Linked DNA regions of Homo sapiens. The protein of the gene in region 1 interacts with the protein of each later gene in a pairwise test. Each region holds a gene or a part of one and is shown in the gene's direction. Other genes may lie near its edges.

The links.
Region 2: the proteins of PAK5 (region 1) and PTPN21 interact in binary tests that used the Homo sapiens proteins (3 or more experiments, as listed by UniProt).

What each region holds. Positions count from the first base shown.
Region 1 is NC_000020.11:9,832,281-9,847,665, reverse strand, and holds the start of PAK5 (serine/threonine-protein kinase PAK 5), read left to right. Parts: upstream 1-8,589; 5' UTR 8,590-8,904; intron 8,905-15,385.
Region 2 is NC_000014.9:88,463,700-88,479,280, reverse strand, and holds the end of PTPN21 (tyrosine-protein phosphatase non-receptor type 21), read left to right. Parts: coding exon 1-361; intron 362-5,478; coding exon 5,479-5,616; intron 5,617-6,815; coding exon 6,816-7,037; intron 7,038-8,930; exon of another isoform or gene 8,931-9,230; coding exon 9,231-9,359; exon of another isoform or gene 9,360-9,413; coding exon of another isoform or gene 9,414-9,434; intron 9,435-9,547; coding exon 9,548-9,782; intron 9,783-10,204; coding exon 10,205-10,365; intron 10,366-11,015; coding exon 11,016-11,144; 3' UTR 11,145-13,503; downstream 13,504-15,581.

The sequences.
Region 1 (15,385 bases):
TGTTGCTTTGTAGAGAGCTTCGAAATAAAAAAGTTAGTCTTTAACTTTGTTCTTCTTTTTCAAGGTTGTTTTGGCTATTCCAAGTCGCTTGAGATTCCATATAAATTTTAGGATAGATCTTTCTTCTGCTGCAAAAACATTTGGATTTTGCTAGGGATTGCATGGAATCTGTGGACTGCTTTAGGTAGTATTGATATCTTAACAATATTAGGTCTTCCAATCTATGAACATGGGATGTCTTTCTATTTATTTATGTCTGTGTATTAGTCCATTCTTGCAGTGCTATAAATAATTACCTGAGACTGGGTAATTTATTTAAAAAAGAGGTTTAATTGGCTCATAATTCCACAGGCTGTATAGGAAGCATGGCTGGGGAGGCCTCAGGAAACTTACAATCATGGTGGAAGGCAAAGAGGAAGGAGGCACATCTTACACGACCAGAGCAGAAGGAACGGAGTGAATGGGGAGGTGCTACACACTTATAAAAAACAAAAACAAAACAAAACAAAAAAACAGATTTCACTCACTATCATGAGAAGAACAAGAGGGAAATCCACTCCCATAATCCAGTCACCTCCTACCAGGCCCCTCCTCTAACACCGGGGATTTTAATTCGACATGAGATTTGGGTGGGAACACAAATCCAAACCGTATCAGTCTGCTTTAATTTGTTAAGAAGTATTTTGAGCCAGGCATGGTGGCTCACGCCTGTAATCCTAGCACTTTGGGAGGCCGAGGCGGGTGGATCACCTGAGGACAGGAGTTCCATACCAGTCTGGCCAACATGGTGAAACCCCGTCTCTACTAAAACACACACACACACACACACACACACACACACACACACACACAGATTAGCAGGGTGTGGTAGCACACGCCTGTAATCCCAGCTACTTGGGAGGCTGAAGCAAGAGAATTGCTTGAACTTGGGAGGCGGAAGTTGCAGTGAGTAGAGACGGTGCCACTGCACTCCAGCCTAGGCAATAGAGGGAGACTCTGGTCTCAAAAAAAAAAAAGAAAAAAAAAAGTGTTTTGTTATTTTCAGTGTACAAGTCTTTCACCTCTTTGGTGAAGTTAATTTCTAAGCATTGTATTCTTTTTAATGCCATTGTAAATAAAATTGTTTTCCTAATTTCCTTTTGAGATTGTTCAGTGCTACTATATAGAAATGCAACTGATTTTTGTGTGTTTATATTGTATCCTGCAATCGGGTTGAATTTAATATTAGTTCTAACAGGTGTGTATGTGTGTGTGTGTGTATGGACTTGTTAGGGTTTTCTACAGAGATCATGTCATCTGCAAACAAAGGTAATTTTGATTCTTATTTTCAAATTTGGATGTTTCTTCTTTTTTATTTTTATTTTTATTTTTGTCTGATTTCTCTGGCTAGCACTTCCAATACTATATAGAATAGCAGTGGTAAACGTGGGCATTTTTGTCTTTGTCCTGATCTTAGAGGAAAAGCTTTCAGTCTTTCACCATTGATTTTAGCTGTGAGGAAGTTATGTTTTTTGTTTGTTTTTTTCTTGTGTGTGTGTGTTTTTGCCTATATATGTTCAATTGTTGTAGCACCATTTGCTGAAAATCTATCTTACTCCAAGAAATTGTTTTTTCACTTTTGTCAAAAATTGGTTGTTCATATTTATATTGGTCTATTTCTGGGTTCTCTATTCAATTCCATTGATCTATGTGTCTAGCACTCTGCTAATACTATGCTGTCATGATTACTGCAGCTATAGAGTAAATCTTAATGTTTGGATAGGGCAATTCCTCCCACCTTATTCTTCTTGAACAAATTGTTTAGCTATTCTAGACCCATACCTTTCCATATAAATTTTAGAATAAACTTGTCTATATCTATAAAAAATATACTGACTATTTTATAGAAATTTCAGTGATTATATAGATCAATTTAGGGAAAATTGATACCTTTGCTATGCTGAGTCTTCTAATCTATGAATATAGTATGCCTCTCCATTTACTTAGGTCTACTTTGACTTATTTCATTTGTATTTTGTAATCGTCATTGTCAGCATACAGATACTGTATATATTTTGTTAAGTTTAAACCTAAGTATTTCATTTTCTTTGGAGCAATTGTAAACGGCATTGTGTTTTAAATTTTATTTTCTGTATGTTCATGATTAGTACACAGAATAAAATTTTGCGTGTGTGTTGATCTTGTATGCTGCAAATTTGCAGAACTCATTTATTATTTCTAAGAGTTATTTGTTAGATTCTTTGGCATTTGATTCCTAGACAATCATGTCATCTGCAAATAGAGACAGTTATTTTTCTTGCCTCATTTCAGTGAGCTAGAATTCAGCTAGAATTTCCATTACTATATTGAGTAAGATTGGTAAGAATAGTCAGGCTTGCCTTGTTCTGCCTCTTAGGGGGAAAGCATTCAATCTTTTCACCTGTAAGTTTGATGTTAGTCAGAGGTTTTTTGTAGTTGCTTTTTATCAAGTTGAGGTAATTCCCCTCTAGTCCTAACTTGCTGAAAGTTTTTATTCATAAACATGTGTTGGGTTTTGTCAAATTTTTTTCTGCATCAATTGATGTGATCATATTACTTTTTTCTTTTTCATTTTTTATTATGGTGAATTACATTATTTTTCCATATTAAATCTGCCCTCCATTCTGGAGAGAAGCACCACTTGACAAAGTATAATTACTTTTATACATTGTAAGACTCAGTTTGGTATCTTTTTTTTCAGGATTTTTGCATCTAAGTGGTAGCACATGTCTGTAATCCCAGCTACTCGGGAGGCTGAAGCAAGAGAATCGCTTGAAGCTGGGAAGCAGAAAATATTTGTTTATAGTTTTGTTTTCTTTCCTACTGAATTTGTTTGGTTTTGTTATCAGGGTAAGAGTTGTTTCATCAAATGATTTGGGAAGTGTTCTCTTCTGTTTTCTTAAGAAAATTGTGAAAAAATGACATTAATTCTTCTTCCAGTAGACTTCTCCAGTAAAACACTCTCACTAAATTATAATTAAACACTTCATATTAAAAAAAGTTTATAGCCAGATACCTAAATAGATAACATACTCTCAATTGCTGATTACAGGTTATTTTTCAAGTTTAAGTCTCTGGATATTTCATTTTGGGGAGCTTTTTAAGTTATGTATTCCATTTTCATCAGTGGTTCCAGGACTATTCAGCTTACGTATTTCATCTTACTTGAGTTTTTGTTAGTGTGTGGTTTTCAGAAATTGTTTATTTACTGTAAGTGGTTGAATTTATGAACACAAAGTTTTTCCAAATATTTACTTAAATTATCCTTTTAATGACTTCGAGATCTGCAGTTTCAGTACCTATTTTATTCCCAATGCTGGTGATTTGTGTCTTCTCTTCATTTTTGTCTAAACGAATAATTTTAATCCAGACTTATTTTAGTTATCTGTTTTCATTCCATTTTCATACTCTGTAAGGCTTTTTTTTAATTAAAAAATTATTTTTAGGAACAAGGTCTTTGTTTTTCAGGCTGGCACTGAACTCATGGGTTTAAGTGATCCTCCCACCTCAGTCTCCTGGGTAGATGGGACTATAGGTGTGTATCCCTGCACCCAGCTTTCTGTAAAATTTTAATATGTTTAAAAGAGAATAATATTTTGGGATATTTTGAAGAGAATAATGGCTTCTTTTTAAAACACATGCATTTATTGTCTAAAATTTCAAGCAATTTTAAGGAATACAGAGAAGTAAACAATCAACCCAAAATCTTTTCATCAAAAAAATCCCTTGGTTTATAATATTCCATAAATCTTCCTGTATAGAAAGAGATAAAAATATAAGGTTATAACAAGTAGGATAAGTTGACAGATATACTTTTTCAAGTATCATCCATATGTGGATGATAGCACAGAAGCTACTTTAAAACTAAATTGTATTTAATCTTATTAAAATTAAATAAGAAAAGAAGCTAAAATGTGCCTGCAGTAATCTCTCAACTTCAGAAAACGGTTTTTTTTCATATAGAGAGATAAGTTTGAAACATATTCCCTTAAAGGTAAGAAAAAAGCATGATGAGATCAGAGGTGGGGTTTTCTATCTATCTGCGGCAACTTTAATAATATACATTGACCACTTGCTGAGGAAATCATTATACTTAAACCTCCTTACAACTCCCTTCTTTCTACCTTCAGATTTTAGTAAGTTATCCAATGATACTGACATTGTCAAGGTTTATATTTATGTTCTGATTTAAAACTGCCAAACACCAGTGGTTTAGTCTTAGATTTATTTTAAAATAAATATGATTATCATTATCACATTTGACCACAGCTTCATCGTTCATGAGATTTATGTTTTAAATTTATCTCTTAGTTGTATAAATTTGATAATGAAGTAGAATATTATAAAGGTTTTTTTCTGCTGTGTATACTGATTTATTGCATTTGAGAACAATTGACTGTTGCCTTGAAAATCTGAAGAACACCAGTGTAGGAAAATAAACATTCTTAGGTCACCCTTTCTTTCCCTCAGAACACCCTCAGGCATTGCTTGATGAGAGTGAAGAAATCTAAATGCACACTGACTTTCTTTTTCTTATATGTAAATTGCCTTTTCTGTCTGGATATTCAGAACATTATTTGTCTTTGAAGTTCTGTAACTTCAGTAGGATATATTTTAGGGTTAATTGTTCCAGGTTGATTCTTTTTTTTCCCCTGAGACAATTGTGTTCTTTTGTTCTGCTGATCTAACACTCTCTATTTCAGGAAACTAACTTTTGTGTTTCTATTACATCTTTGATTATTTTTTTCTCTTCCATTTTATTCTTTTTTTTTTTAACAGCAAAGGTTGTAAAAAGTGGTATTCTGGTAGATATGTAATAACCAGTTGTCTGAAAACAAACAAACAAACAAAACCCTGATTTGTAGCATTTGTCCATTTGTGTGGGGTAAATACTTCCACAGTGGCTGATTTCAAGCTGTTACTGAAAATGGAGTTAGGAAGCAGTACGTATGCCCAATCAGCTCTTGCAAGCTGGTGCAAGCCAGCTCCTGCATGTTACTGGTTGTACATGTGTTGGATCTCCTTTGTTTGTATTTCATAAAAATGGTCTATGATTTGTTTTATACTTATTTGTTAGTAGCTAAGTACTTGTCTATTTATCACTGTGTTTTCAGTGGTTAGTCTGTTTTTTTTTCCTATTCTCTCTTTCTTTCTTTCCTTCTTTCTTTCTTTTTTTTTTTTTTTTTTTTGTAAGACGGAGTCTCCCTCTGTTGCGCCCAGGCTGGAGTGCAGTGGTGCAATCTCGGCTGCAACCTTTGCCTCCCGGGTTCAAGTGATTCTTCTGCCTCAGCCTTCTGAGTAGCTGGGATTACAGGCGCCCACCACCACGCCCGGCTAATTTTTTTGTATTTGTAGTAGAAATGGGTTTCACCATGTTGGCCAAGCTGGTCTTGAACTCCTGACCTCAGTGATCCGCCCACCTTGGCCTCCCAAAGTGCTGAGATTATAGGCGTGAGCCACCACGCCTGGCCCTTAGTCTCTTACCTTTTGAGTGGTTTAATGGCTTTTATTTTTCCCTGAACTCTGCTAGTTTATCTTTCATTTTAGTCTTATTGTCTGTCTTTAAATCCTTATATTTCTTTATGGTGCTTTTAAAAAACATTATTCAGATTATATTGCCTTTCATTCCATTGAAACTCGGGAAAAAATATTTGTCCGAACTTTTTTTTCTGTTTCCTTGGGGGAATTCTTTAGAGACCTATTCTTTATATGCTTTTGTTTATGTTCCTTGGAACATTCTTTTCCACCTCCTATTCTTTCCCTACCTCCACTATCTGAGCAAATGTCCTGCTTCATTTCTAGAATCTATGCTGGTTCCCTTATGGTTGCGGTTCATCTTTCAAGAATTCCAGCCATTTGTAGATGCATAGCCTGGAGAAGGTAAAGAGAATGAGCTGGGTAGTCTGAACCTGGGTTCCAGCATGCTGTCTTACACATCCCTGTCAGCCAATCTACCAAGTTCTCCACCCCTCAGGTTCATCTTGTCACAGTTTTTGGTGTCAACAAGGTTGGTTGACATTAGTTTCTCATGAAATCTTGACTAGTCAGTAGCTCTGTTTTATTGAAAAACACACTTCTATTTACTATCAAACACTTATTCCTACCCCATTACAAATTACAAATACAGATTTTGACAGAGAAAATTATGTCTTAAATGGTAGACAATAAATACATGCCTGCTCAATAAATCATAATTAAACTAGTCATATAAAAAATGCATACAGCCAGATACCTAAATAGATAGTATACTCTCAATGGCTGATTACAGGTTATTTTCCAACTTTTAAATCTTTGAGCCAGAGAGAAAGTCTATTACTTATTCAAAAATAAAGTTTTAAAATCTGTCTGACAAATCAGTAGAGTTCTACTTTGTGTGTTCAAAAGTGCTGTATTCAATAAATACATCAATGTGGTGGACAAAGGAATGTTTTGCCTAAATTCCCCTTAAGTGAAGGATTTGTTACTGCAGCCACAGGGACTACAGCTGACAGAGGCCTTTAGCTGTTGTTACCTGTAAGAATTGCCAGAGCTGCCTGTCTTAAGTTCGTGCCCCTCCTAGGAACAGCCCATGCTCAATGATTGATGTGGATGTAAAGGACTGACTATCTCAGACCAACTCATGGTCATTCTGAAGGATCACCCTAGCTAGTGAGCTCCATAAGGGGCTGACAAAGGCTGCAATTGGCTTGCATCACAGCTTAGCTTCTACCTCTGCCTGCTCCTGCTTCCTGTATCCCTCCCACCCACAGATGTTGGTCCTTAGTCAAATACTGCAGGCTAAACCCTCAAGAAATGGCATTACATATAAAGAAAACCCTTAGGAATTCATGCAATGCAGTATTTACAGAAATAGCATTATTATTCATCTATAATTTTTACCTTGCACGCTTCCAAAATAAATTTGAGGCAGCTAACAATCATCATCATATTTAACTAGCAGAAACAAATGTACAAACACAAACTTTATGTATAACAGGAAGGCTATTTTAAGTGATTAAAGTTCAATATTTCAAATAAAAATTTTAACTGATACTAACCAATGACAAATAAACGATATCTCAGTAAAAATATGTTCTGGCTTTTGCATCTATGTGAGCACACATATAAGAAAGTCAAAAGTAGAAAATATTTATGCATATAGTTGTGGGGGTGACGATGGTGGCAGTGGGTAGGTTGTTAGGGCTGTGTGCAGCTTTGAGAAGGAAGAGATGAGTATGATACACAAGGACATGGGACTACTGAGGGAGAAAAGTAATCATCCATTTATCCTGTGGTTTCTGTTTTGATATGGCCAGTACAATATTAAAGGTACTAAGTGAATGGAAAACAAGCAAGGGGAAATGATAACTACTATACTATTAGCTAGAAAACTGTCTAAGGTCATTGAGTATAATAAGGAACGGAGAGATACAAATCCTTATTTTGTAACCTGCTATCTAGTTATGGGATCAGATTCCATATCCACTACTAGCTCATAAGGGTACTCTTGTGGCAGCTGAAGACAGACAAGAGCGTGGCTTCTTCATTTCCAAGGGTGAAAACTCAGGACTACTTCGTGAATGTCTTTCATTCACTAGAGTCTTGATAATGCTGGAGACTTCAAGAGTCTGGGAGGGCAGTAGGCAACTGGGAAGTTTAAGTTGAACCACAAATATCGTTGCAAACTTCAGCCCAAACATCACTGAACACAAAGGCCTGACATCTCTTGGTACAAAAATGCGCTCTATGTTTGTCATAATCTGTCGGCTTTCTTAACTAGGCAAGCCCAAGCTTGCTATTAGATGTACAATAAACACTTTGATGCCCAGTCTGAGTTTTTGTCCCAGCTCAGGAAAGGCAAGGGGACAGCCAAGGCAGACTGGTTCAGACTTGACCGGGGCAGCTCATCCAGCAACTGGCTTACTAGCCAGCTAGCAAAGTGAGCATGAAAAGGTCCAGGAATCCTTCTTCCCCTGGGCCTTAAATTCGAAATCAGACAGCAGCCAAGGAGAAGCTGGGTGGTCACAGCCTAGCCCCACAAACACTCCTTCCAGGTAAGGCTCAGCAACCCCAGGCTGGAGGAGTCTCTGTGGACACCAGAGACCATTGCTAGGCTGGCGGATTGAAGGATGGCCACTGAGAGGTCACAGATAAGGGGTTCTCTAGATGTTTGCTACTCGGAGTGGTGGGAGGGCCAGCAGCAGCAGCATCACCTGCGAGGTTGTTAGGCTTGCAGAATCTCAGGACCCAGCCAATTGAATCTGAATCTGCATTTTAATTCACAGGCACATGAAAGTTTGAGAATCACCGGTCCAGGTGGTGGCAAAGAGGCCAGCCCACTGTTCTGCTTCTCAGCCCCTCCTCCTCCCCACCTCTGCTAGCCTCTTAAGCAAAACTCAATCCTGCAATGGTCCTGAACAACATTTCTGCAAATCCCGAGTGTTGGGGGAGAGGGCGTGCAGGAGCTGCCCCCGCCGGGGACGACTGGGAGTAAACGTGATTGGATTGGTCGCCTGCTCCAGCTCCCGGCTCCTGGCTCCTGCACCCTGAGTGTAGACACGCCCCCCGACCCTCCCCCTCACCTCCACCCCCGGCCGCCGCTACAGCCTGCCTCCCGCCGGCTGCCACGAAAACCCGGAGCAGCTGCGTACGCTCATGGACAGTCCTCCGAGGGGCGAAGCCGGGCAGCTGGGCATGCTCAGTAGCTGGGGGAGGTTTGGGTGGAGAGTAGAAAGCTGTGGCTCTGCCTCTCACCCCCTCCCGCTGGCCCCCGCCCCCCTTGCCCCTACCCAGCCAGTAGTAGTTCCCCAGCGTGCGCCCGGGGAGACCGGGAACATGGCGCTGGGAGCGCTGTAGCAGCTGAGAAGGGGCTGAGGCACCGCCGCTTCGCTGACAGCCGGCCACCAGGTAGGCAGGCGCGCCTGTCGGGACTGCCTGGGTGGGTATCGGCGAGAGGAGAGGCGCCTGCGGGGATGCGCGCCGCTGGTAACCGGAGCATCTCTCTTTGCCGGGAGAGGATGCGAAGAGGACCACTGTGACAGCGCGATCCTGCATCTCCTAGGAGATGCAAAGGCTAGGGACCTGCTGCCTGGAGGGTAGGGATAGGGGACCGCCCACCCTCAACCCATGCGCTACTATCCAGCCTGGGCTCTCTACCAACCAAATAAAGGATGGTTCCATTTTGCTGGGCGGGAGGGCGTGGAGGAGAACCCCGGATTCCAGCCCTGAGAGCGTGCTGGTACCCCGAACTGCTCGCAAGCCCAGCACCAGTTCTTTGTGTGTATACAGCAGCGCACGCCCTGGGGGTGCCACGGCGCTGCTTTTCCCGAGAAGTGTTGGACATATTGCCAGAGCAGGATTCCCGCATGGTTTTTGTCTTTTGGCAGGTGTGGACTGGAGGATGCAATAGCTGAGCCTTTATGAGGCTGTGTTTTCCTTTGTTATTTGTGTGTGTGTGTGTGTGCGCGCGTGTGTGTGTGCGCGCGCGCCTGGTGGGTTGTAATGGAGAGACAGAGAGAGAACTTCTGCTTGTGGGCACCCTTGTGAGCAGGGCGTGGAAGAGGATCTTGGTTCCAAACTCTTGTCAAAATTGTGTGCCATGTCAGCCTCCTAGAGGGTAAACTTGAGAAGTCCAGGGATCATCACTGCTCAGTTTGGAGGATAAGCGCGATCGCCCTTCTTGAAACCATGTGTGTGTATATGGAGCTTTCAACTCGGGCTGAGTTAATTTGTCAACATTAGATATCAATTAAGGGAACCTGAAACGCTGAGGCTATTTATGGTGGTCTTTTTATGGCCAGAATAATAAACAAAAAGAAAAGTTGGCACAAAGCCAGAGGAAAGTGTCATTGTTAATAGTTGATGACAGCTTGAAAGACTGAACACACTTTTAGGAAAATCAGGAAACCTGGCATTCTACGGAGTTCTACCAAGACATAGCCACAGGGTCTTAGGTAACTCACAAAAATCTTCTAGTGCAACCGCTTCTCTTCTGGGGCTTGGAGGCTGTAGACACTCTTTCTCTTACCTGATATAGATGGACAAGATGCTTTTTAGAAGTCCCTCCTACACTAGAATTCTATGAAATTGACACCTTATAATAACAGCTGTGCCACCTTAGATTTGTGTATCTGTTATATTCAACAGCACAACAACTCAATCTTGGGGAGAAAGATAACCAGGTTAGTTAGGGAGAAAGGTAAATTTAAAGCATGGGTTTATTTTTTGCTTTATAATTTAAAGGATGGGCATCTTAGCATATGAAGTTTGGAGACAGTTTCCTCTGCACTCACACTATTTATTTTTATAGTCTTGTTAGGTGGCGAGAATGAGTCAGTATCATCAAAATGAAGTGGGGGAATACATAAGGAAAATGCATTTAAGTAAATTAAAGCCATAAATGTCCAATCTGATAATACCTTGACTTGGAATACATATGTGCAAGGCAGATGCACTGCTAAATGGAAGCAATATAAGCCAATGGCAAGTTCCTTGGTAACGCTGGCCTTAGACTAAAAACCTAGTGTTCTTCTGTGAGTGGGTAGAGATTGTACTAGGTCTCTGCAGCTTGTTATTTTATTAATAAATGTGAGTTTAATTGAAAATTGATATCTAAGCATTGAATCAATTGATATCTAAGCATTGAAAATCTAGTCTGGCAGTGCCTCTCCACTCTGTCAGGACCTGCTGAAATGCTGTAGGTATGGGAGGCAGGTGTTTGAACTCTGACTCTTCTATGTTTAGCTTTGTGATTCTGGGAAAATTATTTAACTTTCCTAAGCCTCAGTTTCCTCACTTATAGAACAGTCCTCGGAATAGTAAGACTTATCTAGATGAGTAGATGTACGGATTAATCATAATTTAAACCACCAGGAAAATGGTGGTGACTGTTATGAGTAAGAGGGAAATGGATATTTACTGAACCTATGCTATGTGCCCTATATAATGATTCAGGCTCAAACATGTTAATTCCCTTAAATTTCCCAACTATATTAGTTTCCTAGGGCAGTTATAACAAGTTACCAAAAACTGGGTGGCTTAAAACCACAGAAATTTATTCTCTCATGGTTCTGGAGGCTAGAGGTCCAAAATCAAGATGTTGTCAGGGCCATGCACCCTCCAAAACCTCTAAGGGAGGATCCTTGCTTGCCTTTTCCAGCTTCTGGTAGCCCCAGGCATTCCCTGGTTTGTGGCAGCATAACTCCAATCTCTGCCTCTGTATTCACATGGCATCTTCCTCTCTGTCTCTGTCCCTGTGTCCAAATTTCCCTTTTCTTATACGGACATCATTCATATTGGATTTAGGACCTGTTCCTTATTCAATATGACCTCAAATTAACCAGGTTACATTTGCAAATGCCTGATTTCTAAACGTCATATTCACAGGTTCTGGATGGGCATGAATTCTTGGGAGACACTCTTCAGCCCAGTACACCAACATCCCTATGAACTGTGTTTGATGACAACATTAACATTATGTTAGCATAAGAGGTAAAGATAGAGTAGCATGGATTCAGAAAATACTTTAAAGATTATTTAAGGGAACTAACCTATTTGAGGCTTTATATACACAACCATGGTAGGGAAGAGCAGGGTTCAAAAGTACCTCATTTATGCATGTCACTTACCTGGGAGCCAAGACAACCCAGGACCTGGATCTTCTAGAGTATCTCAAACATACTGTGCCCCCAGTTGATTTGTTGATGTTGCCTTCCATCCTTCTTGCTAACCTTCCAAACAAATGCAAAAAAACCAAAATGCATTAAATAACAAAAACAATAATAGCAACAAAGGCAAGCTAACAACTTTCTAGTCCTTCTTAACCTGGTAAATGGCACCACTATCCATCGAGTTGCTTTAACCAGAAACCCAAGAATCACCTTTGACACCTCCTTTCCCTTGACCCTCCACATTTAAAACCATCATGCAGTCTTATAAATGCTATTTTCTCTATAGATCTCTAAATACATCTTGATAAATTATTTCTATCCCCACCACCACCACTATCAAACTGCAAGAGATGATAATCTCTTACCTGGACCACTAGAATAACTTCCTAACAAGACCCCTGGTTCCTTGCCTGGCTCTTCTAATCCTTCATCCAGAGCAGAGAGGATAATGTCAGTTCCCTACATAAAATACCACCCACACACCTGGGACAGATTCCAGAGACTCCTAGAGCCTCTGATACTTGGCCAGCCTCATCTTGTGCATCTCTTCCTCTTGATGCTGTCACACTGACCCTCTGTCTGTTTCTGGAACATCCCCAACCATCTTCCCTCTATATTTTACCAGTCTGGGTCATACTCATCCCTTGGGCTTCCTTGATCTCTCTTCCCCACCGACCCAACTCTCTCATCATCCTTTCACTTTTATTCCACAGCACTTATTCCAGTTTGCAAATGCCTGTTTGTTTGGCTATGTCTGTAAGCTCTATAATGGCCATTTATTTTATGTCTTATATGCAGAAGGTGCTCAATGAACTTTTGGTGAATGAGTGAAGGAACGAATACTCTGCCTCATAGCATTTTCCTGTGCCAACTTCAAGATCTGATTTTTAGAAGGTTTTTCTTTTCTAGTATAGAAAGAGCAATTTAGAACCTTATTCTGACTTCAAAAGGAGAGTATTCTTGGCTTTAACAAATGCATCTTTTAAGAACTGATTTAGGCTAGAAGTTAAGAATTGAGTCAAAATATTTTTTTGGCAACTGAGGTTTTTGTAAAAATACATCAATCAGTCAATAAATATTCTGCAAATATTTATTGCATGTGTATATTTGCCATGCTACACCCTTGGAAGACAATGGTGAGCTAGACTTTCAGTCTTCTGGAAATTAATGGTAAACAATAAATAATAATCATTATGTATAATAATAAATAAATAATACATTTAATTATTTGTTGAGCTTCTGTTATATGCCAGTGTCTCTTCAATTCCTGTCCATAATCATCACTATAACCCTCTAATCTTTCCCAATAACACAGAACCCCACACTTACTAGGAGCACAACAAATATTTTGTGAATTAATAATTTGTTGGTATTATTATTCTGATCTGTTGAAATAGGAAATGTGTGCTTATCTGGGGAAAAAGGTATCTGCACATATATAGAAGAGCATGCAATTGCTTTCTCACCATATCTAGGTGGGCACTGTTTTATTTTAAAAATCATCCTGGACATTATCTCTGGAGGTAAATTAGGAGAGAAATTGCTCTTTATAAGGCGACAAGTTCCTGGTGTGTTTCTGTCAAAATCCTGAATTGTTTTATTTCGTTTAATTGTCTAAATTTGTCCTGTTTAATCCAAGTGAGAAGTGACTTAATGTCTCTCATTCAGAGCCCTTTTTGTAGTTTTGAATAGTAAGACTGAGTGCCCAAGGGAAATGAATGTAGTTCAACAGAGGAACACATGTTATGTTTTAGATTTCTAAAGTGGCTTCAATTTCAGATTTTTATATTAGTCTCATAAAAGGGTGATTTTTAAAAATAAACAGTAAAATAGCATTTAATGCCTATGTTTAAGTAAAGTTTTTAATGTAAGTAACCAAAAATTAGACAGTGTGCCTTGATTTTGTTTAAAAGTGATGGATACACAATGGGATCAATTAAAGCCTAAAGGAACTAGTACAAAATTTCAGTAATGTTTTTGGTTATAAAATACATGTTCAAAAATTGATGGCCACCCAAAATGCCAGTGTTTTACTAACTAAAAAGTAGAATGGAAAATGATTCTATTCATGAATTCACTAATATATAAATTGAGTGGGAAAAACAGGAAACATACATAAAATACTCGTGAATAATAAGAAATATATAAAAGTCTTTGTGGAAAGCTATACAATTTTACTCAAACCAATAAACTGAGGAGCAAACAAAGAAAGACATACCTTATGCTTTGGTAGAAAGATGAATATTATGAAACGGTTATTTTTCCCAGATCAATTATATAGTTTTATTACATTGGGATTTGGGAGAACCTTACAAAATGATTCTAACATCCATCTGGAAGAATCACCATATAAAAATAAAAGAAAACTTTTCAAAAGAATAGTAGTGGTGGTGGGGGAGGTGAGTGGTGGTGGTAAGATGGGAGGTGGTGGTACATACAGGTGGTGTGGAGAGTGGAGTTCTAGGGGTGGTAAAGGTGGGGGGAAGTTTGATGGTGGAGACGAATACATGAAGGTGGTGGGATGAGGTGGTATGGATGGGGGTGGTGGGTGGTAGATGTGGGTGGTTGGGGGGTGAAGGTAGGTAGATGGAAGTGGTAGTGGTAATGGGCGCCATTGTTGAAACAAAAGTAAATTTGATCATTGGCTACAATCATTATAGCAATGTAGTACTGGTGTAAGAATTGATTAATAGCTCAGTGGAATAGAAGAGCCTGGAAACAGATTTAGGTCATTCTTAGAACCAGAAATATGACGAAGAAGGCATTATGAAACAGTGAGGAGTATTTGACAAAACGTCATGGAAATTGGCTAAGTGTATAGAAAGCATTCAACTAAGAACCTCTGTTTACATGACCCTCCAAATGAAATTCCACATAAATTGATAAGTTTATATGCAAGGTGGAAAACAAAGCTAGAATAAAATATTTAACTAATTTTAGGGGAAGTACTTTTTAAATATAAAATCAATGGGAAGAATCACAAAGCAAAATAAAGATTTGAATATATTTTAAACTCTCATATGCAGCAATGCATGCATTTTAAACAGAACAGAATCATGGAAAACAATATTGACACCAAACATGACATGACAGTTCATGATAGCCCTGAGGAACTCTTGCAAATCAGTGAGTAAACAATAGCACCCCAATAGAATTGTCCAAATATCTGAATGCATAATTCAAAAGGAAAAAATAAAAGACCAATGCACACGTTTAATAAATGTTATTACTATTAATCACAGAAATGCAAATTAAAATAACAATGAGGTGGTGTGTTTTATGTATTAAAAAAGTAAAAAATACAAAAAATAAACTTAATACTGGCAAGGATGCAGTGAGAAGGACAATCTCTTTCATTACTTGTGGTGGGAGGGTTACATAATACAAGCTTCCTACAGAGAAGTTTAAAAATACTTATCAAAATGTCTGCCAGGCACGGTGGCTCATGCCTATAACACCAGCACTTTGGGAGGCCAAGGCAGGTGAATCACTTGAGGCCAGGAGTTTGAGACCACCCTGGCCAACATGGGAAAACCCCATCTCTACTAAAATACAAAAAAATAGCTGGGTGTGGTGGCACACTCCTGTAATCTCAACTTCTTGGGAGGCTGAGGCAAGAGAATCACTTGAACCTGAGAGGTGGAGTTTGCAGTAAGCCGAGATCGCGTTACTGCACTCCAGGCTTGGTGACAGAGTGATACTCTGTCACCATTAAAAAA
Region 2 (15,581 bases), on another chromosome or scaffold:
GGACTTCGAGGAGGAGAGCGGGGCCCGGGCGCCTCCTGCACGTGCGCGCGAGCCTCGGCCCGGCCTGGCCCAGGACCCACCTGGCTGCCCTCGCGTCCTGCTCGCCGGGCCCCTGCACATCCTGGAGCCCAAGGCCCACGTCCCAGACGCGGAGAAGAGGATGATGGACAGCAGCCCCGTCCGCACGACCGCAGAGGCCCAGCGGCCCTGGAGAGACGGGCTGCTGATGCCCTCCATGTCGGAGTCCGACCTCACCACGTCAGGCCGCTACCGAGCCCGGAGGGACTCTCTGAAGAAAAGGCCGGTGTCGGACCTTCTCTCTGGGAAGAAGAACATCGTGGAAGGGCTCCCGCCTCTAGGGGTAAGCCACGCGGCGAGCAGTGCCGGGCCAGGGGACCGCGCGTTCGCCCTGGCGCTTCTTTCACTCATCACGTCCCGTGTTTTTCAGCTCCTCTTGTTCTTTTAACGTTCTTCATTCCCCCACGTCACTCTCTTTTTGTCTAATTCTGAACACATTTAAATTTATGGAAATCATGGGGATCCACTTGAATTTTAGTGGTTTTACTGGAGATAATTATTATAGATGAAGTGAAAAGGTAAATTCACAGGGTTTTGTCGAAATGGAAAAGATGAATGAAATGTTTTAGTAATGCACTGTTAAGGGAAAGACAGTTAAGATTTCATTACTTTAGCCACGATTGCTTTAGCCACCCATTAAAAATACTGTGGGTGATGTGGCACCCCAGGGGTGCATTTGTTTAGTTTGCTCAAGAGATATCTGAAAAAAGCATCCAGGAAAGTGTACCCAATCCTAATATAATTCTCCAGGTTGGAGTGTGTGTGGATACAGCTTACATATCTTGGCCGTGATTCTCCAGAGTGATTCTGGAGTTGGGAAGGTGGCACTTTGTTAAGGCAAATCCTGAGACGTCCAGGTTTCTTAAATTTAAAAGAAAGATGAATTCAGCTGAGAATCTAAGGAAAGTCCCCGGTAGAAGATGCAGTTCTTTAATATTCAGCCTAATAAATAAATATGAATTAAGCACTTTTTACCTACTTTGAAGCAAAATATAAAAAAGCATAGTAGCATCATCTCTAGCTACCATCCTTGGAGCATTTGCCATGGGCCAAGCATTTCCTCTACTTTTGTGGCCTATTTACAGTAAGCCTATTGTTATGCCTGTTTTACAGATGAAGAAACAGACTTAGATATTAACTAACTTTTCCAAGGTCACATGACTAGTGAGTGACTGAACTGGAATTTTAAACCCATACTTAGAAGCCCATTCTGTTATCATCTACACTGTAGATGTATGTTCTGCATTGAAGTATACTGTATATGTTCTATTAAGTCATAATTGCTTGTTGAAGCCTTGCTAGTCTTTCACTGAAACTTTTAAACTCAGTCCTTAACCTGGGACTAAGCATCTGCGGCCTTGTCATGAAGTGTGTCCACCGAAGTGATTTTGTTGCAGTGCTCAGGCTTCCAGCTCTTCCTGGCCCACATCTCCACTCCTCATGCCCTGCACTTGAGCCAGGCTAACTTGATTAGGGCCTCCATCCTATCTCCTGTTGGCTTCCAGTGTCCTGGCAACTAGGGTTCTCCTCCCCCCATCGCTGCTAAACTGCAAACTCCGACAGGACGGCTCATCTCAAGTGTGGTTCTGGCCTAGTGTATGACATCCTTTAAGATGCTGCAAACATCTTGCTAAACAGGAAAAAACGCACACTATTATAGTACTTATGAAAGAGATTAATGTACATAGACAAAAACTACTTAACAAAAAAAGTACCACAGATTTAAATTTGCTTTTTTTTTTTTTTTTTTTTTTTTAGAACAGTCTTGCCCTGTTGCCCAGGCTGGAGTGCAGTGGTGTGATCTCAGTTCACTGCAACCTCTGCCTCCTGGGTTCAAGCGATTCCCCTGCCTTGTGATCTGGCTGCCTCAGCCTCCCAAAGTGCTGGGATTACAGGTGTGAGCCACCACACCTGGCCTAAATTTGCTTTCTTTTAATAAGTTTTGGGTTTGAATTTTAAGTTGATTTTTAAATTTTTCACAAGTATGCAACATAACTCACATCCCTGAACAGTAAAGGCCAATGCCTTCAGTGGACACAGATTTAAGAGTGTAGGGAGCAGTGATTCAGGATAAGGTGTGGGTAGATTTTCCAAAGTAACTCTACCTGAATCCCTGAGCCAGCTGGACAGGGTCCTTTTATAGTTAACACCCTTCCCATTGCATTAAGAACGGTCTGTTTTTATGTGTGACTCACGTACTTTCCCCAAATGCTATCTGAGTACAGCTCAGTACTCAGGCCTATTTTATCCCTGTATGTTTTGAATGGGGTCTGGTAGGTTCAGTTAAATCTGAGGACTTTGATCAATTTGGTTCTCTTAAAAGAACTTTTCTCTCCCATTGACTTTTAAGACCACAATACTAGTAAAATTATGTGATTGGATTATGTTTTTGGTCCTTTTTGCTTAAAGGATTCTACTTAAGGAATGGGTATGGCAGCTGTGGTCACGAGGAAAGAGCAAAGGTCCTACAAGTTAAGAACGTTGGGGCTGAGTCTAGAGCCTGCCATTTGTTAGTTCTCTGTGACCACGGTCAGGACCCTTCATGCGTCAGAACCTCAGCTTCCACATCAGATAACCTCAGATCATGAGGACGGTCATCCCTTCGCTGCCTGCTTCGTGGCATTATGTCCCACATGCAGTTAGGCATGAAAAAATGCCTCCTGAATTACATGATTCAGTGTAACTGATTTTAACCAAAGATTTGCTTTTATTTGTTTTGACACTGATTACCTTGTAAAAGAGGCAGCCATGTGACCTCAGACAAGCTATTTAATCTGTGACTCAGTTTTTACATTTGTAAATGAGAGGACCCCAGAGAGTTGTTGGGGGGATAAAAATGAGGTTCTGGCACATTGAAAGAGATTAGTCAATATTAACATTACTGTGAGGTGGCATCATATATTTAACTTAATGGCTTTCAAGAGTGGAAGAGGCCAATTCCCTATTGTACCCTCTGACCTTTCATAGTAACATGGGGTTGCCATTATCTTAATCGTTACAACAAATTTCCTAATGTGAATTAAGGTTATGGAGGTTTAGTATTAAAAACAGTGAAATAAACTGTAGACAAGTAGGAATGATTTTAGAATTCTCCACCCATCTCCACCTCCAGCAACCTGATTGTTATCTTAAAGGCAGACTGGTTTGGGTGCTCATATATCTACATAAAGATTTTCTTTTTGTTGTACCCTTTAGTGCAGTGGTTCTCACATAAGAAATCACTGTGCAGGGTATGCATTAAAATCCTGTGCTTATATTCTAAGGGCTAATTAAGGCATATTCAAGGCTAGTTTTGACTACATACAACATTCTTCCAATACTGGCTTTTGAACTGACCTCACAGCCAATCAGCTTTATCCAGCGTGTCCCAGTGTGGGATATTTTGAGTCATTTTCAGGCAGAGAAGTGCCAGAGCTAGTTCATATTGACTAGCAAGAGCCGACTTAAATGTTCAGGAACCTTGTGAGCCAATTGATGTGACATTAACAGTTTGAAATTGGCTGTGATGGGAGTATTTACACCATGGATATGGGCAAACACCGATCAAAACTTCCTTCCAAGAGCCTGTTGTTAAATATTACCAGCACATCACTGTTTTCTGCACGTTAGAATCATTAAATTTCAGCCTAAGCAGGAAGTGTTTAGTCTGTATGCCTGTGTCTGGATATATCTGTCTCTTTCTGTCTAGGTGAGGCTTACAGAGGAAAGGTGACTTGCCTGAAAGAAGTTGGTCAGTTAGAGGCCAGATGTGAACCCAGGCCTCTGCTGTTTATAGTCTAGACTGCATTATGTGGGGAGCTCATGATCAAATATTAATTATAAAATTAAAAATTAATCCACTTAGCTTATTGAGTTAGGTACCAATCACAGTCTCCAATTACAGCAGCAATCTTTTAGGATTTTTTTCCTCTCTCACCAAGTTGCCTTTTCCCTCTGTTCTTGCACCATTATCATGGGGCTTCATGGCCTGTTACAGGCTGAGAGAGCTGGAATAACACGGATTTTGTTTACAGGGCAGAACCATTATTTTCCAGTTGGGGCTACTCATTATATTGATATCATCCAAGGAAGTGTAGTATATCCAACGAAACTTAGTGTTCTTTTTTTTTTTGGAGACGGAGTCTCACTCTGCCTCCAGGCTGGAGTGCAGTGGCACGATCTCAGCTCACTGTAATCTCCACCTCCCAGGTTCAAGCCTTTCTCCTGCCTCAGCCTCCCGAGTAGCTGGGATTACAGGCATGTGCCACCACGCCCAGCTAATTTTTGTATTTTTAGTAGAGACGGGGTTTCACCATATTGGCCAGGATGGTCTCAATCTCCTGACCTCGGCCTCCCAAAGTGCTAGGATTACAGGCGTGATCCCCCGCACCTGGTCAACTTAGTGTTCTTATGCTTACTATTCTCAGAGAGGAAAATCATGCTCTAATAATAATTTTAGGAAACACTTGATTTCAGGAGACAAGATTTTGTTGATGCTTTCTCTTCTGTCCTATCCTCCTGGTGTCATGATGGAGATTTTAGCCCTGTTTTATTTTCCTTGTTTAAAAACGTAGCCGTTCTGAGAGGTAGCGTGATCTAACCCGGGTCATCTAAGTCTGCACTAGAATGCAGAGTAGCATATGAGGAGGGGGCTTAACACACAAAGGGGGCTGCTGCAGAAACCATTTAATTTTTCAGAATGACTTAAAGAATTTATATATTTTAAAAATTATAAAAAGCTGTCCGGGCATGGTGGCACACGCCTGTAATCTCAAGCACTTTGGGAGGCCAACACTGCTTAAGTTCAGTTGTTTGAGACCAGCCTGGGCAACATAGTGAGACCCCATCTCTACAAAACACACAAAGATTAGTTGGGCATGGTGGCATGTGCTGGTAGTCCCAGGTACTCGGGAGGTTCAGGTGGGATTGCTTGAGACTGGAGGTTGAGGCTGCAGTGAGCTATGATGGTGCCCCTGCATTCCATCCAGCCTGGGTGACAGAGTGAGACCCTCAAAAAAAAAATTTATAAAAGCTTACTATAGTCAATTGATTGCATTTAAAGCTTTTGTTTTTTTTTTTTTTTTTTTTTTTTGGACTTCAGCTGATTTGTTACGTCTGTCTTGTTTTAAAAGGAATGCAGTCTGCCTGGAGCCTCACCTTTCATTACAACAGAACTTTGTAACCAATAGTGTTTCAAAACCTTCTATCTGGAAGACTTTATCAGGGCTTTGGCCTTGAAAGGAATGTCTTCCTACTAATGTTTGTTAAACAAGTGGTGTGTGAAGGAGTGTAATCTTTCTGGGTTTATTGGCAAAGGAGAACACTCCCTCTGTGTGTTCCTGGTCTTCAGTGCATTGAAACTTCTTTTCACAGGGGTTGTATTTGTGTATATTTCATATATACATATAAATCCTTTTACAGGGAATGAAAAAGACTCGAGTAGATGCAAAAAAAATTGGTCCTCTTAAACTGGCTGCCCTAAATGGACTCTCCCTATCTCGAGTGCCTCTGCCTGATGAAGGAAAGGAAGTGGCTACCAGAGCAACGAATGATGAAAGGGTATGTATGGGACACACAGGGCTTTGTGCCTTCTCTGGAACAACCGGTAAATACTACGCAAATGCCTTCATGAGATTTTGGTGAATTTTCTAACACAATTTAATAATAAATGAGTGTTAAGGAATTTTGTAATATGGGCCTCAAAATTGGGGCAAATGTATAGCTAATGTCTTAATAGATAATTTCAGGTTCGAATGCTGATTTTTTGTTTGTTTGTTTCTCAGTGTTCTTTTTTACCTTCTCCTGGCCTTTTGGAGCAGTCTTGATTTTGATGGCCTTAAAGTGAGAAGAAATCTACAAAAATACAGGAGCATACAGGGGAAAAGCAGCAGACATTGACTTTTATTATACTGAAAGTTTATCTCGAGAGTAGTTTCTCAATTTTTCAAAACTTCCTTTGTGCCTGAGGTGTATTTTCTATGAGGTTTTATTACATCAAAATCAGATAGGCATACATTTGCTTTACAACGGGATCCTGGAGGTAGTTTCGAATATTTCCTACTGCTTTAGTCTTTTATATATCGTATGACATAAAATGGAAACATTTGTTCATAGCTGTTGGAACTCATTATCCGTCCCCTAGATTTACTTACTGTTCCCCAGGAGAATTCCATCTATTAGGGGTCACAAAATTGACCACAGATCTAGAGAAAATGAATTCAACAAATTTCTTTAGGCCAATTTTCAACTTTAAACAAAAGTTTGCATTATATTTCTCACCAAAATGATTGTCTTTTGTTCTTTTAACTCTTGTTGTTGTGGCTTTTTAAAATTTTAACTTCATTTTCACCTAGAATTTTGTTTCTGTTTTGGTTTTGGTTTGGTTTTTTTGAGATAGGTTCTCATGGTTCACTGCAGCCTCAACCTCCTGGGCTCAAGCAATCCTCCTGCCTCATCCTCCCAAGTAGATGGGACCACAGGCATGCACCACCACACCTGGCTCGTTTTTTAATTTTTTGCAGAGACGGGGTCTCACTGTGTTTCTCAGGCTGGTCCTGAACTCCTAGGCTCAAGTGATCCTCCCTCCTTGGCCTCCCAAAGTGCAGGGATTACAGGCATGAGACACCGTGCCCAACCTAGAATTTTCAATATTATACAGTGCTAGATTTGAAGCAGAAAACAAGATTTCAAATATACAGTCAAAAGGTAGCCACGACGTGTGGCTGTATTCATGTTATTACACATATTCTGTTTTATAGTGTAAAATTCTGGAACAACGATTAGAACAAGGAATGGTATTCACAGAATATGAAAGAATTCTTAAGAAACGGCTAGTTGATGGGGAGTGCTCAACAGCACGACTCCCTGAAAATGCAGAAAGAAATCGATTCCAAGATGTTCTTCCTTATGATGATGTGAGAGTGGAGTTGGTCCCAACTAAAGAAAACAACACTGGTTACATCAACGCATCACATATTAAGGTGAGAGGAACGCCTCAAGTAATCAACAGCACATGCAGTTTCAGTTAAGTTACAAGAATGGTAAGAATTGTATTCATGTCTGTTTAGAATTCAGATATTTTAAAATTTATTTTTATTGTATTGTTTTAGATAAACACCCTAGTTTTAAACATTTGTGACAAACTGTACTGCAAGCTGGGAAATCCACATACCAGTGCTAGATAAAAAGCGTCTATCAGACAGAGCCAAAGTCATGTCTACTCTCCATGTGCGAAACCACTCTGCCCCCAACACTGTTACCAGGACTCAGGGCGCACTTATTTGCCCGGCTTTTTTTTTTTTCTTTTGCCTTTTTTGAGATAGAGTCTTGCTCTGTCGCCCAGACAGGTGGAGTGCAGTGGTATGATCATGGCTCCCTACAGCCTTGACCTTGTGTTGCCTGGCTTTAGAACTTTGTCCTTCTAAATCTGAAGACCTCTTTTTAGCTCATAAATTCTGGGAGCCACTGAATTGCTAGTTTTTCCTCATCACATACTGACATGCATTTTTATGTAACAAAAGTGTCTGGGCTTTTTGATGGTGTTCACAAAAGCTTTCAACTTACCAAGGTGCCATCTGTTCTCTTTACATACTCTTTATAATAATTTTTAAGTATCATTTTTTTTCTTTGAAGAAGTGCTTTTTTCCTGGAACCAGTATAATGCCATTAAACTGGGGTAATGTTTATGGTGAGAGATAGGGGGTCCAGTTTTACTTTTCTGCTTATGGATATCCAGTCTTCCCAGTCCCATGTATTTAAGAGGCTGTCCTTCCCTAGTGTATGTTCTTGGCACCTTATCTGGGGTAATATCACTCCTATGAAAATGGACAAAATGATGATTCACAACACATGATGGAATAAAGCCAGATGTTCCCTCTTCCTCATTGTACCCTTTGTTCATGCTGGCCACATTCAATTCTTTATTTTGGGAAGGAGAAATCTCATGGTGAGTGAATGAGTAACTGTGGACAGGTGGTGGTTTTTTTCTTTAGTTTGCAAGTATTATTTGAGAAGGGAACAAGCTGACACCAAGGCTTTCTGGAGACTGGCAGTCTGCCTGTGAATGCCAGTACCCCTTGATGGCTTTTGGGAATCTATGCACATACTATTTTGTTTTTAAATATAATATCAGCATAATTTACTTAAAAACCGAGCATTTCCTTGAAATAACTCATCCAGTCTCTCATGACTAGATGGATAAGAATGAATGATACTGTAGTTCTGTAGTGATATTTCAAAATCTTCAGCAGCCACTTGCAGAATAGAGGAAAGAATTTGATAGACCTGGGTCTGACGCCTAGATCTAAAATGAGGTGGGACCTCACTTTATAAGCTGTGTTGTGGGACCTCATCTCACTTACATGGAAATAAATAAATGATGACACCTACCCTGCCAGCTTCTCACTAGTCCCCTCCTCCTCCCTAGTGTTTATTCACTGTTATAACCTGGTACTCATCCACAGTGGCAGCCACTGGGTGCTCAGTGAGACGATGTGGAGCGGTGACTAGGGGGCTGGCAGCCCTGAGTGAGAGTGCGTGTGGCACAAGGCTTGGCACTGGGTTTTACGTTTAGTGAGTGTTTGGAGACAGTTATTGTCGTCACTCAATATTGGTGAAGCCAAGATTTAACCCAGGTCTCTTAACCACAAATCTAGTAATTACTGTTGTATTAGACTGCTCTCAAGGAAGTTAAATCTGAAGTGGAAACTTAATATTATTGTGGAGAGTGACCTTGACTCAGAAGTTCAGAGGTGAGACTATCTTAAGTAGGAAGGTTTTTTTTAAAGAAGAGGCACCATGTCTGCAATAACAGCTACTTATTGAGTTATGTGCCAGGTACCATAGATACTGACTCAGTCCTCACAATGACCCTATGACGGTAGGCAGTATCTTTATTGTATAAATGAGAACTGACATTCAGCAAGGTTAAACAGGTTGCATAGATATTATGTATATTCACAGTACCTAAGTTTATAAAAATGTCAGTAATGCAAATTGTATTCACAAGGGAAAAGATGAAAAGTCTTTCCTTATTCTGCTGAATAATCCAGTTTACTACTTTTTTACTTTTTACTTTTTTAAAAAAACTTTTTTAGTACTACCATGAATGCATGCATACATACCTATGTATATTATACCCACACATCAATTTTTTTAACCTTTTCTAATCCCAGGTCTCTGTCAGTGGAATCGAATGGGATTATATTGCCACACAGGGACCATTACAGAATACCTGTCAAGATTTTTGGCAGATGGTATGGGAACAGGGAATTGCAATTATAGCAATGGTGACAGCAGAAGAGGTAGGTACTTATTTCTCTTAAGTGATTTTCTCAGCCTCTGAAGAACAGTTAATGTTAATCATCTGGAATCCTGACCTGTGGAGAAAAAGGCAGGGTAGGGTTGTGGTTCTGTTTCAGATGTGCCGTCTATGTGAGAAAGGCATCCATTGCCGGATCTCGAGTCATTTAACCATGCTCATCTTTAACAGGAGGGTGGAAGGGAGAAGAGCTTTAGGTACTGGCCACGACTTGGTTCCAGGCACAACACTGTCACCTATGGAAGGTTTAAGATCACGACCCGGTTCCGCACAGACTCTGGCTGCTATGCCACCACAGGCCTGAAGATGAAGCACCTCCTTACTGGGCAAGAGAGGACCGTCTGGCACCTCCAATACACAGACTGGCCTGAACATGGCTGTCCAGAAGACCTCAAGGGATTTTTATGTGAGTGACTTTAACTTTGTTCCGAGGACAGCTGCCTCTGGAGGTGTTAAACAGAGAGGAACATTTATGTTTCCGAAATATTTCCTTTATGTTATCTCATATAAGCTTCGGACTTGTTTTAACATAAAGAATACAAGTGTTTTGGGGAGGGTTAACGAGGTTTATAAATTATGATTTGGTAGTGAGTAGAATGCCACAGCTGACTCAGTATCTCCGTCATTTCATTTTGTAGATCAGAAAGTGGACAGAGGTAGTGACTTGCTCAGGGTCACACTGTCCCTTTGTGGTTGGGTTTGGTTCACTGGCACCCAGTGCTCTTTATCTGCAGTCCTCTTAATCAGTGGAGAGAATATGAAGATTGAGTCAACAATGTGATACGCCTTGATCCTTGAGTACTTTTCTATTTCATTGATTTTCCACAGCATATCTTGAAGAGATCCAGTCTGTTCGACGCCATACAAATAGCACAAGTGATCCCCAAAGCCCCAACCCTCCGTTGTTGGTCCACTGCAGTGCTGGGGTAGGAAGGACTGGCGTGGTGATTTTGTCGGAGATCATGATCGCCTGCCTGGAACACAATGAGGTGATGGCGCTTATGATCACCTGGCCTTTTTGGGTGGAAATGAGGCTGGGGAAGAGAGGGACATAGTGACTTAATAGCTCTTTTTGCGCACATTTCCTTGGACTGTGGTGGCCTCAAGATGTTACTAATGTTCCCTGCAAAAGGCTGTGTCTTCTTGGAGAGTCTCAGTACCAATTAGCATATTAAAGACTAAGAAGTCATACGATAAATAAAGCTGTTTAATTTTGTTTTACTTGCCCAGGGTTTTTCAAATTTGAGCTCAGAATTCTTTTTCTGTTTACATTTCAAGGATGATTCATGCTGCCCAGAGCCCTTGAGGGAAATAGCTAGATACTGATAGCACTTAGCACACTATGTTTTTGTATAATTTTGGTATTTAGTGAGACATGGTAATTATGTCCAACCATACAAAGTCAGTGAGCTACACCTGGGGAATGTTGAAGAAATAGTCTGCATGGACATTCTATTTATAGCTAAAACTAATCAGAAAATCAGAAGTAGGCAATCATGGCTTATTTCTAGAAGACGCTAAGGTGGAAAAGAGACTGTCCATCTCCCAACCAGGTTTCTGCCAGGACACTCGTGTCCTCCCATCCTTTCTGTCTCCCCAGGGGAACACATTATCTTCATTACCGTTTCTCTCAACCTAGGTGCTGGACATCCCGAGAGTGCTGGACATGCTGAGGCAACAGAGAATGATGCTGGTGCAGACTCTCTGCCAGTACACATTTGTGTACAGAGTCCTCATCCAGTTCCTGAAAAGCTCCAGGCTCATCTAAGCTCCCACAATTTCTTACGGGGCCAGTCATGTGAAGCGTTTACAGCTTAAAAAAAAAGCGCTTGCCTAACTCATACTTTCCCGTTGACACTTGATCCACGCAGCGTGGCACTGGGACGTAAGTGGCGCAGTCTGAATGGCGGCACGCTGAAGGAAACGTGCGAAGCACAGGCTGAAGAGGGGTTTCTAACCTGGGAAAGGTGCTCAAGGAGGACTTGGTTTCAAGGGCCTTGCCCTGCCCCGGTCTGTCCGGTTTGCAGTACTTGCACACATTTTGGAGATTGTATTTTCTAGACAATTCTCTATTTTACTGAAGCTATGCTGGGCAATTCTGGCAATCATTAAAGTGCATAGATTTCTATCTTAAACTAATTTTTGATAATGGAGTTTTTATTTTATGACAAATATTTAGGGATTTTTCTAGTGAGAAACAACTTTGTGTAAGGATGATCCACAGATATGAGTTGCTCCTATATAACTTTGTATTTAAAAATCATGTTATTATCTTTTGTTATTTTTTAAAAACCTTGGGTACTTAATAATGGTTTAGTTGCCAAACTGAAAACTATACTGAGAATCTGTGTTATTTTGAAACATCAAAAGGATTTTTCTATCCAGAACATTTTTTATCCTAAAAATTCTATATAGTTGTACCTTCTGTTTTTCAAATGAGAGCTCAATTCATTTAGATACTGAAATGAGTCAGTTAATGTAAAGTTGAGGATGAAGGCACATTATTTAAAATGTAAGAGAATAAGCATTATTTTTTCAGTATTATTCATAGATCTAAATGAATTTGATTTTATTGGTTGAAAATGAAGTGAAAAACAATTGCCTAGGGTGGTTTTAAGCACTTTTTTGTTAAAAACAAATCTGAGTTTTAATATATGTGTTGCTTTGTAGATGACACAATAACAATGGGCGCTGAGAAGCGTTTTGGGAGAGATTAAGGACTAAGAGTATGTAAGATGACTAGGACAAGAGTAGGTGGAGTGTGATGGTAAATGCAGGATGCCTTCGTCTTTACAAAAATGCAGTATTATCTATACTCAGACTGAGGTGCTGGGATGGCGAGCAGGGGACCCCACAGCACTGTCCCCAGGGAATTCAAGTCCTGTGACCGCCAGTGACTTACTCCGTTTCCTTGGGGCTTTTCCCACCTCAACCTGTATTGTTTCTTTTTCATAAATAAATTCAGCATTATAGTATCATTAAAAGAAGCCTTAAAGAGGCGTATTTTTCCTTTTGGTTGAAGGAAGGGAATAGTTAATAATAGTTTTCACCTCTTCTCCCAAAAAGTACAGTCCAAATTTGTGCACAGAGATTGCTGTGGTATTCAAGAGGTACTTGCATTTTAGCTCCTTAATAATTCCCTGGCCAGTGTTAGCTGTTTAGTGCCCCCTCACCCATCCCATTTAGGCACATCCCAATAGACAGAGCCAGGCTGAGTTACAGGGGGAGAGTGTCATCTCTGGCCCCGATTAAGATGGCCTTGTCACAGTGACCGCTGAGTAGGCATGGATGAGTGGGATATTTAGCTGAGGAACCCTTTCCCTTTTCCTTCTTTTTGGGGTCTCTTCTTACAGTGAACTTCCAAAATGTCAAATCTAGGGCTGTTTCCCAAATTACACTATTCTAGGCATCATTTTGATTCCCATGTCACTCCTTAACTCACTTCCTTGAGCACTACATGTATGTTGTCAGCCACGAGACAGGACTTCCTAAATAGTGTGTGCACCAGCCTAACTCTGCCTTACCCAGAAACCAACCACCTAAGAGGAAAACTCAGAAGATATTAATGAAAACTAATTGAAAGTACGCACACTTCTCATGTAGGAACAAAATTAAAATTTTACATTTTTATTTTACAAAATTAAAAAATTACATTTTGTAGGAACAAAATGTAAATTTTGTAAATACAAAATTCTTTTTAAAGTCCTGTTTAAAGAACAGTAGAACTAAGTGAAAATATTCAGAACGAGCTCCTTAGAAGAAAGGAATAAGAACTTTTTACTGGAACTATTTTCCATCTCTAGAAAAAGTGCTTCTTCCCCTCCCCCTCCCTCTCCATGGTACGTTTTTGTGAAAATGCTTTTCTGTCAGGTTTAAACAAACAGTTTGACATAGCTCGTTGACAAGAACATATTGTAAAACAAATCTAATTAAAGAGTAATATGTGGTCTATTTGTGTTCCTGTTGTAATAATTTGATAAGTAAACTTCTGAGGGCAAAATTACTGTTTAATATTACTCTTAAAATGTTGCATGTTTGGCGTCATTCCTAAGAGCCATGTAATTTTAAACTTTTAATTGCAGTTAGTGAATATGAAAGGATTTCTGAATAAAAATCTATCCACATTACTGAGCTTTGAAATAGTATCATTTTCAAGAGCAAACTAGAACATTAAGGGTTCATAGGTTTACTGCCTCTGAAATGAGTATATTAATGTCTGCCAAACTTACACAATGCTTCATGTATCTTAGTGTCTTTTAATAAGAATTATCAAAATGTGCACTTCCACAAAACGTAGAGTTATAAACCACTGTTTTCCACTGATCAATTTTGGTATCTCTGGTATCAGTTTTCCTGATTAGTGGGGTCTTTTGATGAAATAGTTTAGCTTAGTTGGTAGTTTTGAGCACAGAAAGTACTCATTTTATTTTTTATTTTTGAGACGGAGTCTTGCTCTATTGCCCAGGCTACAGTGCAGTGGCATGATCTCGGCTCACTGCAACCTCTGCCTCCTGGGTTCGAGTGATTCTCCTGCCTCAGCCTCCTGAGTAGCTGGGATTACAGGCATGCACCACTATGCCCGGCTAATTTTTGTATTTTTAGTGGAGACGGGGTTTCACCATGTTGGCCAGGCTGGTCTCCAACTCCTGACCTCAAGTGATCTGTCTGCCTCGGCCTCCCAAAGTGCTGGGATTACAGGCGTGAGCCACTGTGTCCAGCCAGAAAGTCCTCATTTTAGAATATCATTTGGAATGCTTATTGTAGTCATTAATTTCTTCTGGAACATCTACTGTGAAGCATTCAGAAAATGCTAGAACTTAGACTTTAAAACCCTTTGGTCGAATTAGAAGCTGGGCCTGTGCTTCCTTAGAAACGTCCAGAAAGCAATGTCTAGCCAGAAACAGGAGGAGGAGGGAGGAGAGTGTGGTGTTGTGGGACTGAGTGGCGACAGCATGACGTGGCCAGCTTTTCTGTGAAGCTTTCACCATCAGTCATTTCAGAAGGGTTGAGATGTTAAATGTTCACAATATTAAGAAAATTTAAATATACAACTATGTACAGTAATATAAACTGGAGATTAGCTGCAGCTTGCCAAGAGCAGGTTTATTATTTGAGATTTGCATAAAGAAATGGAAACAGGAAATTATTGTAAATAAGACTTTTTTTTTCTTTTTTGAGACGGAGTTTCGTTCTGTCACCCAGGCTGGAGTGCAGTGGCACGATCTCGGCTTACTGAAACCTCCACCTTCTGGGTTCAAGCAATTCTCCTGCCTTGGCCTCCCAAGTAGCTGGGATTACAGATGTGCGCCATTACGCCCGGCTAATTTTTAATTTTTAGTAGAGATGGGGTTTCACCATGTTGGCCAGGCTGGTCTCGAACTCCTGACCTCAGGGGATCTGCCAGCATCGGCCTCCCAAAGTGCTGGGATTACAGGCATGAGCTACCATGCCTGACTGTAAGTCAGACTTTTTAAAGGAACTCTTTTGGATAGAAATGTAGTTGAATTTGCTTATCAGCAAGATTTCATGTGGAACAAGCTAAAACTATCCCTTTCCAGTTTAAACTTAATTTTTTAAAAAAAGAATCTAAATTGCAGGGTGCTTTCTTTTGAGCTGAGGGATGGACATTTCAAAAGTAGAGGAATAGCTGCATTAGAAATTTGCCTGGGAAAACATTTCTCAAAAGAATATGAGCTTTTCAAATTCCTGGAAATAAGAACTCCATTTACCCTACTATCTAAAATTATTTATAGAAAAATGAGGAAGGCCGGTCGTGGTGGCTCACCCCTGTAAATCCCAGCACTTTGGGAGGCCGAGGCGGGTGGATCACGATGTCAGGAGTATGAGACCAGCCTGGCCAACATGGTGAAACCCCGTCTCTACTAAAAATACAAAACTTAGCTGGGCATGGTGGCACGTGTCCAGCTACTCAGGGAGGCTGAGGCAGGAGAATTGCTTGAACCCAGGAGGCAGAGGTTGCAGTGAGCCGAGATCTCGCCTCTGCACTCCAGCTTGGGTGACAGAGCAAGACTCTGTCTCAAAAAAAAACAAAACAAAAACAGAAAAATAAGGAAATGTCAGGAAATTCAGATCAAAGTTTGCATGTCTACTTGGGTAGAGAGAGTTTTAGAAAACATTTGAAGTCCTTGGATTGTTAAAGTGGTGGCATAGTTTTCTGGGTATTTCAGGTAGTTCCCAAATAAAA